Homo sapiens: one gene and its partners. The protein of the gene in region 3 purifies or fractionates together with the protein of the main gene of each other region. This does not show direct contact. Each region holds a gene or a part of one and is shown on either strand. Other genes may lie near its edges. The genes, in order: SPAG9, TBC1D23 and FAM174A.

Region 1 (3,500 bases), on a different chromosome or scaffold from region 3:
AGTATTACTTCTATGGTGAGGTTATTGTTCATTTTATAATATTAGGTTATAAGACCTGTATTTACAACCATTAGTTATTTTAAGAAAACATGAAAATGCTAAACATTTCTAGACTTAATATTGTTTTCTTTTTCACCTGAGAAGCTGTGGTGTGCTGTTGGAGTCAATTTATCTGGTGGGAAGACCAGAGATGGTGGTTCTGTTGTTGGAGCAAGTGTATTTTACAAGGATGTTGCTGGTTTGGATACAGAAGGCAGTAAACAGCGAAGTGCCTCTCAGAGTAGTTTAGATAAGTTAGATCAGGAACTTAAGGTAAGTGTGTGTACTAACATTTGACCTGGTTTATGAGACTATGAGTTTAACTCTTTCATCCAAAATTTGCCTCTGGGTCCAGCTTCTAATTGGGATTACTATGCCCTGGCTTACTGTCCCTCAGCACCCTTTTAAAATCAATTTTAAAATATTGAGGTATAATTTACATGCAATAAAGTGTGCACTCGAAATGGGTATAGGTCAGAGTTTTGACACATGTGTACACGTATGTAATCACTACAGTGATCAAGCTAATGGAACATTTTATCATTGTTCTGCTTTACCTGTTAGTTTTGTGTTGCTGTTTAGAGACAGAGTCTCACTCTATCACATAGGCTGGAGTGCAGTGGCATGATCATGGCTCACTGCAGTGTTAACCTCCTGGACTCAAGTGATCTGTCCACTTCAGCCACCCAAGTAGCTGGGACTACACACCCACACCACCACACCTGGCTAATTTTATTTTTTGTAGAGACGAGGGTTTCACTGTGTTGACCAGGCTAGTCTCACACTTCTGGCCTCAAGCAGTCCTCCCACCTCAGCCTCCCAAAGTGCTGGGATTACAGACGTGAGCCACTGTGCCAGCCTAACTGCTAGTTTTTCATCTACTAATTAATATTGATAGGTGGTTGTATTAGTCTATATTCACACTGCTGATAAACACATACCCGAGACTGGGAAGGAAAAAAGAGGTTTAATTGGGCTTACATAGGTAACCTCTGGGGAGGCCTCAGAATCATGACAGGAGATGAAAGGCACTTCTTACATGGTGGCAGCAAGAGAAAATGAGGAAGAAGCAAAAGTGTAAACCCCTAATAAACCCATCAGATCTCGTGAGACTTATTCACTATCACGAGAATAGCATGGGAAAGACTGGCCCCCATGATTAAATTACCTCCCCCTGGGTCCCTCTCACAACATGTGGGAATTCGGGGAGATACAATTCAAGTTGAGTTTTGGGTAGGGACGCAGCCAAACCACATCAGTGGTTGTATTTTTACCCTTCCAAATAATCTGGAAATAAATTTGAAATAGTATTGCCTTTTACTGTAACAGCACCACCTTATGAATATTTGTACATACATATTGTTTTAAACATTTTTCCTCCTTTGCCTATACAGGAACAGCAGAAGGAGTTAAAAAATCAAGAAGAATTATCCAGTCTAGTTTGGATCTGTACCAGCACTCATTCGGCTACAAAAGTTCTTATTATTGATGCTGTTCAACCTGGCAACATCCTAGACAGTTTCACTGTTTGCAACTCTCATGTTCTGTGCATTGCAAGTGTGCCAGGTAAGAGTGAGTCATGCGTTTCTCTGCCCTCCCCTCCATCCACCTACCTGCTGGGCACTGATGTAGCAGCTGAAGATGCAGTTCTGCACCTTGCTGTCATGAAGCTTATGTTCTAGTTAGGGAAGATTAAAAAACAAACTGGAAACCATTGAATAAAGAAGATATTTTCAGGTAGTGAAAAATACTGTGAAGAAAATAAAACAATGGGAATATGAGAAAATAACTGGGAGCCAGAGGACTGTTTGGATTAATTAATAAGGAAAGGTCTTCTAAAGTTTTGGATTAAACATTATGTGATGTTAAAACATTAGTTTAAAAATTAAAGAAGTGTATGTGATATATCCATATGTTGGAATATTATTCAGCCATAAAAAGGAATGAAGTTCTTTTTTATATTTTATTGTGGAATACTTAATATGAGTTCTACTTTTTTTTTTTTTTTTTTTTTGAGACAGAGTCTTACTCTGTCACCCAGGCTGGAGTGCAATGGCATGATCTCGGCTCACTGCAACCTCCACCTTCCAGGTTCAAGTGATTCTCCTGCCTCAGCCTCCCGAGTAGCTGGAATTACAGGCACCTGCCACCACGCCCGGCTAATTGTTTGCATTTTTACTAGAGACGGGGTTTTACCATGTTGGTCAGGCTAGTCTTTTTTTTTTTTTTTTTTTGAGATGGAGTCTTACTCTGTCACTCACACTGGAGTGCAGTGGCACCGTCTCGGCTTACTGCAACCTCTACCTCCTGGGTTCAAGTGATTCTTTTGCCTTAGCCTCCCAAGTAGCTGGGACTACAGGCACGAGCCACTACACCCGGCTAATTTTTGTATTTTTGGTAGAAATGGGGTGTCACCATATTGGCCAGGTTGGTCTCGAACTCCTAGACCTCGTGATCTGCCCGCCTCGGTCTCCCAAAGTGCTGAGATTACAGGTGTGACCCACCACCCCGGGCAGTCAGATTAGTCTTGAACTCCTGACCTCAGGTGATCCACCCGCTTCGTCCTCCCGAAGTACTGGGATTACAGGCATGAGCCACTGAACCCAGCCTGAGATCTACCCTCTTAACACATTTTTGTTTTTGTTTTTTTGAGACAGGGCCTCACTCTGTTGCCCAGGCTGGATTGCAGTGGTGCAGTCACAACTCATTGTACTCATTGCAGCCATGACCTTCCGGGCTCAAGTGATCCTCCCAGCTCAGCCTCCCAAGTAGCTGGGACCACAGGCGCACACTACCACACCTGGCTAAGTTGTTTGTACTTTTTGTAGGCAGGGTTTCACCATGTTGCCCAGGCTGGTCTGGAACTCCTGGGCTCAAGTGATCTGCCTGCCTTGGCCTCCCGAAGTATTGGGATGCCCAGCCCTCTTAACAAATTTTTAAGAGTACAATACATTATCCTCTAGGTAGAAGTTCTGACACATGTTATAACACAGATGAACCTTGGAAACACTATGCCAAAGGAAATAAGTCGGACACAAAAGGACAAATATTATATGATTCCGCTTATATGAGATATCTAGAATAGGCACATTCATAAAAACATAGAGTTTCTGTGTGAGGTGATGGAAAAGCTTTAGAAATAGGCCGGCCATGGAGGTTCACACTCATAATCCCAGCACTTTCAGAGGCCAAGGTGGGACGATCACTTGAGCCCAGAAGTTTGAGACCAGTCTGGGCAATATAGTGAGACCTCATTCCACAAAAAATCAAAAAATGAGGCGGGAGGATAACTTGAGTCGGGGAGGTCAAGACTGCAGTGAGCTACGATTGCACCACTACACACCCACCTGGGCAATGGGAGTAAGACCCTGTGTTTTAAAAAAAAAAAAAAAAAAAAAAAAAAAAAGACCTGGCATGGTGGCTTACACCTGTAATCCAGACACTTTGGGAGGCTGAGGTGG
Region 2 (3,113 bases), on a different chromosome or scaffold from region 3:
CATTTAACATACAGATCATACCCCAAATTTTCAGTGTCCCCAAAGTATCTTTTGTAGTGTGTTTTTTCTTTGGTGATCCATGATCCAGTTCATGGTTTACACATTGCATTGTCTGTTATGTGTCTTTAGTCTCACCCTGTGTACAGCAGAACTCATCCCCCCACCCCCTCGCTTCCCTTTTCTCTTCATGATGAATGAATCCTTTGAGTCCAGGTCAATCATCCTACAGAATGTTCCACATTCTGCACTTGTCTGATAACTGTCGTATTGTATTACTGTACATAAAAAATGTGAGAGTATTATATTAAAAAGAAGCTGAGATACAGGGGTTGGGTGAGTGTTAATAATACTATGCTCATTTTGCCTTCAGGATCCAGTTACAGAATGTTTACAAAATATGTAGGGAAACCCAACAATTGCCTAGTGATCTTGGATATTAGATATAGGATATGGTGCATTGAATGAGAATAGTTTATGAATATAGGTAATAGCGTTAAAAAATCTGAAACGTAATATACTCCATTTCAATAAAAAATATATTATTGTAGTGATTTCTATGTTGTATGGAACTTTTTATTATATTTATTATATTTTCAATCATTGCAGGATTATCTGTTAATAAAATATTAATTTTGCATACAATTAAAAGGTGTTAATGTGTAGCTTACTTGTTTATAGATTAACCTCTGTTTATATCTTTTAACTCAATTTTATTTAGAGTTGAACATTTCTAATAATTGAGATGGTTGAAACAACACCTGTTTTGAATTAAATTTACTTAAAAATTCTTTTTCTTTTAATGCTTTTTTTGTCTCAAGTCATCTGTTGGTTACTGCAACACATATGTACTGTTTAAGGGAGATTGTTTCACGGAAAGGATTGGCTTATATACAGTCTCGACAAGCGCTGAATTCTGTAGTTAAAATTACATCCAAAAAAAAACATCCTGAACTCATTACCTTCAAGTATGGAAATAGCAGTGCTTCAGGAATAGAAATCTTGGCAATCGAAAGGTAAGATTTTCCTTAAGATAATATTATCTGAATTCAGATATTATCTGAATTACTGTAGTTCACTATAAAGAGTTTGTTTCTTTATTTTGGGGAATGGATGGTGGAATAGGATAGCTGAACCACTTTTAGTGTTTCTTATCTCTTTCTCCGGAGTCCTTAGTCATGTGTGGTTTAGCCATTAGCACATGATTTGAGTAAGTGCCATAGCTAATTTCATAAAGTTTCTGACCCAAGGATCCTTATTGTTAATCTGTACCAGTGCTGCACTAATTGCTGGCTTGCAGAGAAATAAGAAACTTGTTTTAGAATATGTTGATATTTTTATTTTCCTTCATCGAAAAATTCTTGTTTTGACAAACTGTCAGTGAACTAAGCAGTGTGCTGGGTGATATAGGTAATTTACAGCCTGGTACAAGCCCCCCTTTGTCTCATTGTGGGTCACTAACAGTTCACAGACTGGCCCAAGAGCTGTGGACCACACTGATATTGATACTAAACCATTTTTTAATTATAGATAAAAATATGAAGCCCAGAGGGGTGGAATGACTTCCCAGATCCTAACACTTAGTTTGTGACAGAACCAAATATAGCCTTCCTGACTCCTGATTTGTGGTTTATTATACCTTGCATCAGTTCAAGTTGTTCCCCCACTGGGATTTAGGATTACACTTATTATTTACAGGAGTGCTTGGATAAATAGTAAGCTTAAGGTTATATCGCAGCACTTTTAAATAATCAACTTCAGTTGGAAGAGGAAATTATTCAGCTTCTTTCATCTTGTACTGACAATTAGGTAGCAAACATCATGAATCTATACTGTTTTATGTAATTTGTTAAAAGAAAATAATACCTGATTTGTAAAAAAAAAAAAAATCACTTCATTGCTTTATGTAAGAATAAATATTTACATAGTGATATTTTCAATTAATAATATAAAGAATATGTCATTCTAATTCTCTGTTAACACATTGATGTGTATCTTCTCAGATTTTTTTTAATGCATATGTTATTTCTCTACTAAAAACTAGATAAATGTGATATAGGCTTGTTTTTGTGTTCTGATTTTTTAAGAAAATAGTATAGTGTGAATATACTTACATTTTAATAAATATAAATTTTTTAAAATTAATTAATTAATTTTTTTGAGACGGAGTCTCTGTCACTCAGGCTAGAGTGCAGTGTTGCAATCACGGCTCACTGTAAGCTCCGCCTCCCAGGTTCACACCATTCTCCCTGCCTCAGCCTACCGAGTAGCTGGGACTAGAGGCGCCCGCCACCATGCCCAGCTAATTTTTTTATTTTTAGTAGAGATGGGGTTTCACCGTGTTAGCCAGGATGGTCTCCATCTCCTGACCTCGTGATCCACCCACCTTGGCCTCCCAAAGTGCTGAGATTACAGGAGTGAGCCACCGTGCCCGGCCCAATAAATATAAATTCTTAGCTTTTTAATGGTAGATATTCTGTTATAAGGATTTCTCAGGAGATTGATTTAACAAGCCTCATGTTGATTGGCATTTACATTGTTTTCATGTGTTTCACTATTAATCTTCTAGTGGGCCTTTAAAAACATGTATGTTTACATAGTTGTCCAATTAGTCTTCTCAGGATAAATTCCTGCAAGTAGATTCAATGGGTGAGAGGTATACACATTTTAATATCTACTTATAAATTAATCCTAACCAAAGGAGATTTGAATTATGACTCTCTCATGTATAGTAAAAGTTGGGAATTGTGTTTTAAAGGCTTTCCCACAAATTTTGCTAAATAAATTGAAGTTTATTATATATGGATCAACATCTTTTTTTTTTTAATTCAGAGTTTTGGAAGATAGTCTTAATAGTGGAAGATAAAGTAACTAGATTCTCTCTCTCCCTTTCTTCATTGATATTTATGGTTCTCTATTCTGCCTCGCATATAACACTCATAGATGATTTATACAGTGGAATTGTTAGGTTTTACCGAAGATGCTTTTTTAAAAAAATACCACTATTTTTATTCTCCAAGAAAAGAAAATTGACATTTAATCTATGGTGTTGATATTTTGCAATAGTTATCATAAGTCTTATCTTTTTTAAATATTTCAGACCTCATAACGCCATT
Region 3 (3,740 bases):
CTGTAGCACTCAGTGCACTGGTTCTTACTTTGACTTCTGAGACATCTCTTCTGATTTTCTTCTTACCTCCTTGAGTATTTCTTGCCTAGCTTCTTCATGAATTTCTTATTCCATGAACTCTTCTTCCTAATTAGGACTCTTCTACAAGCTAATGTCTGGAGAGCAGGGCCTCTGTCTTACTCATCTTTGGTCCCTAAAGGCCCAATCTGATTCCTAGAATACAACGAGATGCATTGAATTTTTGTGGAAGAGAATGACTTTCACCTCCCAACTGACAGTGTTTTCTGGGCCCTGCTTTCACTGTCCATGTTCCCTGGGTGATCCATCCAAAATTCATTTCCTTAATGGCCACCTCTAAGCTGTTAATTACTTTCTGAGTTACAGACATGTATAGCCAGCCAACTTCTTACGGGATAGATGATTCAGACTTGTTTTCAAGTTTAAGCTTGAAACAGTATTTTTATCCCTGGACAAATCTTGCTGTACTCTCTTTATAAGGAGAATAACACCATCATCTACACAGTTTCTCAAACTAGAAACCTAAGTCATCCCATGTCTCTCTTTTGCTTACCATTCACATACAGTCATCCAATTTCAATTGCTAAATATTTCTTGACTATATTGCTGCTTTATGAGCTCAATTGACCTTACATTAGTTTAGGTTCACATCACTAGATTATTGTGCTATTGTTTCTAACTTTTCTCCACTTCACCTGTCTCTCTTTCAATTTACCTTCAACACTGAACAGATGGTGTTCCCTCTGAGATGTAAATCTATCATACTATGTGTGTGCTTATAATCCTTTATTGCTACACTGTCCAATATGGTAGCCAGTAGGTACAGGTGGCTATTTAAAAACTTATGTTACCTGGGCACAGTGGCTTACGTTTGTAATCCCAGCACTTTGGGAGGCCAAGGTGGGAGGATCTCTTGAGTCCAGGAGTTTGAGACCAGCTTGGGCAATATAGTGAGATCCTGCTTATTATATTTATATATATATATGTGTGTGTGTGTGTGTGTATAATATTCACACACATGTGTAGGGGGTATATGTGTGTGTGTATATATATGTGTGTGTGTAATATATATGTATATACACATACTGGGTATAGCAGTGCAGGCCTGTAAGTTCCAGCTGTTTGGGAGGCTGAAGTGGGAGGATCACTCAAACCTAGGATATTAAGACTGCAGTGTGTGATGATCACACTACTGCACTCCACCTTTCATGACAGAGCAAGACCTTGTCTCAAACAAAGTTAATGAAAAATAAAATGTAAAATTCCAGTCCATTAGATATACTAGCTGCATTTCTTTTATTTATTTAGAGACAAGGTCTGGCTCAGCTCACTGCAACCTCTGCCTCCCGGGCTCAAGCCATCCTCCCACCTCAGCCTCCCAAGTAGGTGGGACTACAGGCGCACGCCACCACACCCAGCTATTTATTGTATTTTTTATAGAAATTTGGTTTTGCCATGTTGCCTAAGCTGGTCTCGAACTCTTGAGCTCAAGTGATCTGCCTGCCTTGGCCTCCTAAAGTGCTGGGATTACAGGTGTGAGCCACTTCACCCGCCAACTAGCCACATTTTGAGGGCTAAATAATCACATGTTGTTAGTGGCAACTGTATTGGACAGAACAATGCAGAATATGTCCATCACTGCAGAAAGTTCTATTGGGTAGCACAATTCTATGGCATTTCATGGGATCAATGTTCATACTCTTTAGTATTTAATTAGCTCCTTAATCAGATTTTTTGGTGTTTTTGACATGGAGTCTCCCTCTGTCACCCAGGCTGGAGGGGAGTGGCACAGTCTTAGCTCACTGCAACCTCCACCTCATGGATTCAGACGATTCTCCTGCCTCAGCCTCCCCGAGTGGCTGGGACTACCGGCCATCATTTTTTATTTTATCTTGTCTTCCAGTCTCTAGTGAACTATATTTTTATGCAAGTACATTTTTCAAGGATGGAATTCTTTGCATTCTTTCTTTATTCTCTTGTTTAACTCCTGGTTGTCTTTGAAGATGAAATGGAACATGTACTCTACTGGGAAATCTCTGTGATTCCAGACCATTTTGAGAATACCTGTGTTATGACATTATTTCCAGGGGACTATAATAGGTGGTTCTGTTTCTGTCTTCTTTTCTACACTGTTTGCTTTTTATACCTTATTTAGAAAATAGTAGATTTTCACGTTTTCTGAATTAATATCAAAAGGAAATAAGAAATAATGTATCAGGCTGGGCATGGTGGCTTATGCCTGTAATCCCAGCATTTTGGGATTCTGAGGCAGGCAAACTGCTTGAATCCAGGGGTTGAGACCAGCCTGGGCAATATAGTGAGACTTCATCCCTACTAAAATGAAAAAAAGAAAAAATTAGCTAGTTGTGGTGACCTGTGGCCCCAGCTACTCAAGAAACTGAAGTGAATCACTGGAGTCCAGGAAGTCAAGGTCGTACCCCTGCATTTGTACCCCTGCATCCCGGAAACAGTTGAGGCCAAGGTCATACCCCTGCATTTGTACCCCTGCATTTGTACTCCTGCATCCTCAAACAGATGAGATCCTGGAGAGAGAGAGAGAGAGAGAGAGAGATCGAGAGACAGAGAGAGAAGGAGAGGAGAGAGAGGGGGAAAAGAGGAGAAAGAAAGATAAAGGAAAAGAATAAAAAAGAAATAATGTATGTGAAATCAAAACATGTAAATGAAGATTAAAAATGTGAGGTAGCTGTGTGAGAGTGGTGTTAACATCAATCCTGCAATAATGTAGTCATTTTAACTCATTTCAATTCCATACTGGAGCCTCATGATATATGCTTGTGCAGAGAAGTCAGTTTTTTTAACAGGTGTATATTTGCATGTATTTACCCAAGATAATGTGCAGATTATTCACCAGTGTATATCTAACATGACTGCAGTCCTCAGGGTATTAGAGTACAACCAGAAAATGCATTCCTCTGTAATTGATAGAGGTTGAATGTGGGACAAAATGGAGAAACTAGATTGAGATGCTTCTGGTTAGTTATTGCAAAGTTTTTCTGAAAACAAAATCAATAGCATTTGAACATTACTATCAACTGGTAGCAATGCTCAGGTGGTATCTACCAATACACTCTACCAGTGTTTCTGGACCCATTGCTACAGCAAGCGTCTATTCTGACTAGATGGTCCTTATGCCCTGCCAGTTGTTAAATAGCTAAATATCTTGAGTATCACCTCTACTCCTACACTTCAAAGTTCCTGAGTTCTTTTGTCATGATCTCCAGTGCCCATTGTAGTATTTCTCTTCTATATTATTGCATTTGATTCTAATTTTATCTTTGGTGAAGACTACATTTAAAAAATTACTTAGGTTTGATCTTTTCTAAAATATGAGAAATATGGTAAAATGTTGAAATTGGGTTGAAAGATATGTTGGTAATTTGCATTGTTCAGTATGATATAAAACATATCTAGAGAAATACTTAAATCATAAATTGAGAATCTTATAGTAATTGAAGTTACTTTCTTAAGAAATCAGGTTTTCCTTGGCGTTTTTGGATAGATTTTTATTGCTATATTCTTTAATAATCCTTTTTTTTTCTGGAAGAAGAAAGTGGTATAGAGTTGAAAATTCATAGAACATGAAGATATTGACTGTTGTGAGATTTTGGTTGGCATGTAATGTCAATTCTTTCTGTGTAGCCAAACTGTATTATGTTTTTGTAATGTAAAAGGGGTAATATATACTATGGTTTGACTTTAGT

What was found.
Region 1: the proteins of FAM174A (region 3) and SPAG9 purify together in Homo sapiens (co-immunoprecipitation; 3 studies listed by BioGRID and IntAct, with this or other methods). This does not show direct contact.
Region 2: the proteins of FAM174A (region 3) and TBC1D23 purify together in Homo sapiens (co-immunoprecipitation; 2 studies listed by BioGRID and IntAct, with this or other methods). This does not show direct contact.

The regions. Positions count from the first base shown.
Region 1 is NC_000017.11:50,991,869-50,995,368, reverse strand, and holds part of SPAG9 (C-Jun-amino-terminal kinase-interacting protein 4), read left to right. Parts: intron 1-144; coding exon 145-312; intron 313-1,433; coding exon 1,434-1,605; intron 1,606-3,500. UniProt on the Homo sapiens protein: The JNK-interacting protein (JIP) group of scaffold proteins selectively mediates JNK signaling by aggregating specific components of the MAPK cascade to form a functional JNK signaling module.
Region 2 is NC_000003.12:100,319,959-100,323,071, forward strand, and holds part of TBC1D23 (TBC1 domain family member 23), read left to right. Parts: intron 1-818; coding exon 819-1,013; intron 1,014-3,113. UniProt on the Homo sapiens protein: Putative Rab GTPase-activating protein which plays a role in vesicular trafficking. Involved in endosome-to-Golgi trafficking.
Region 3 is NC_000005.10:100,541,845-100,545,584, forward strand, and holds part of FAM174A (membrane protein FAM174A precursor), read left to right. Parts: intron 1-3,740.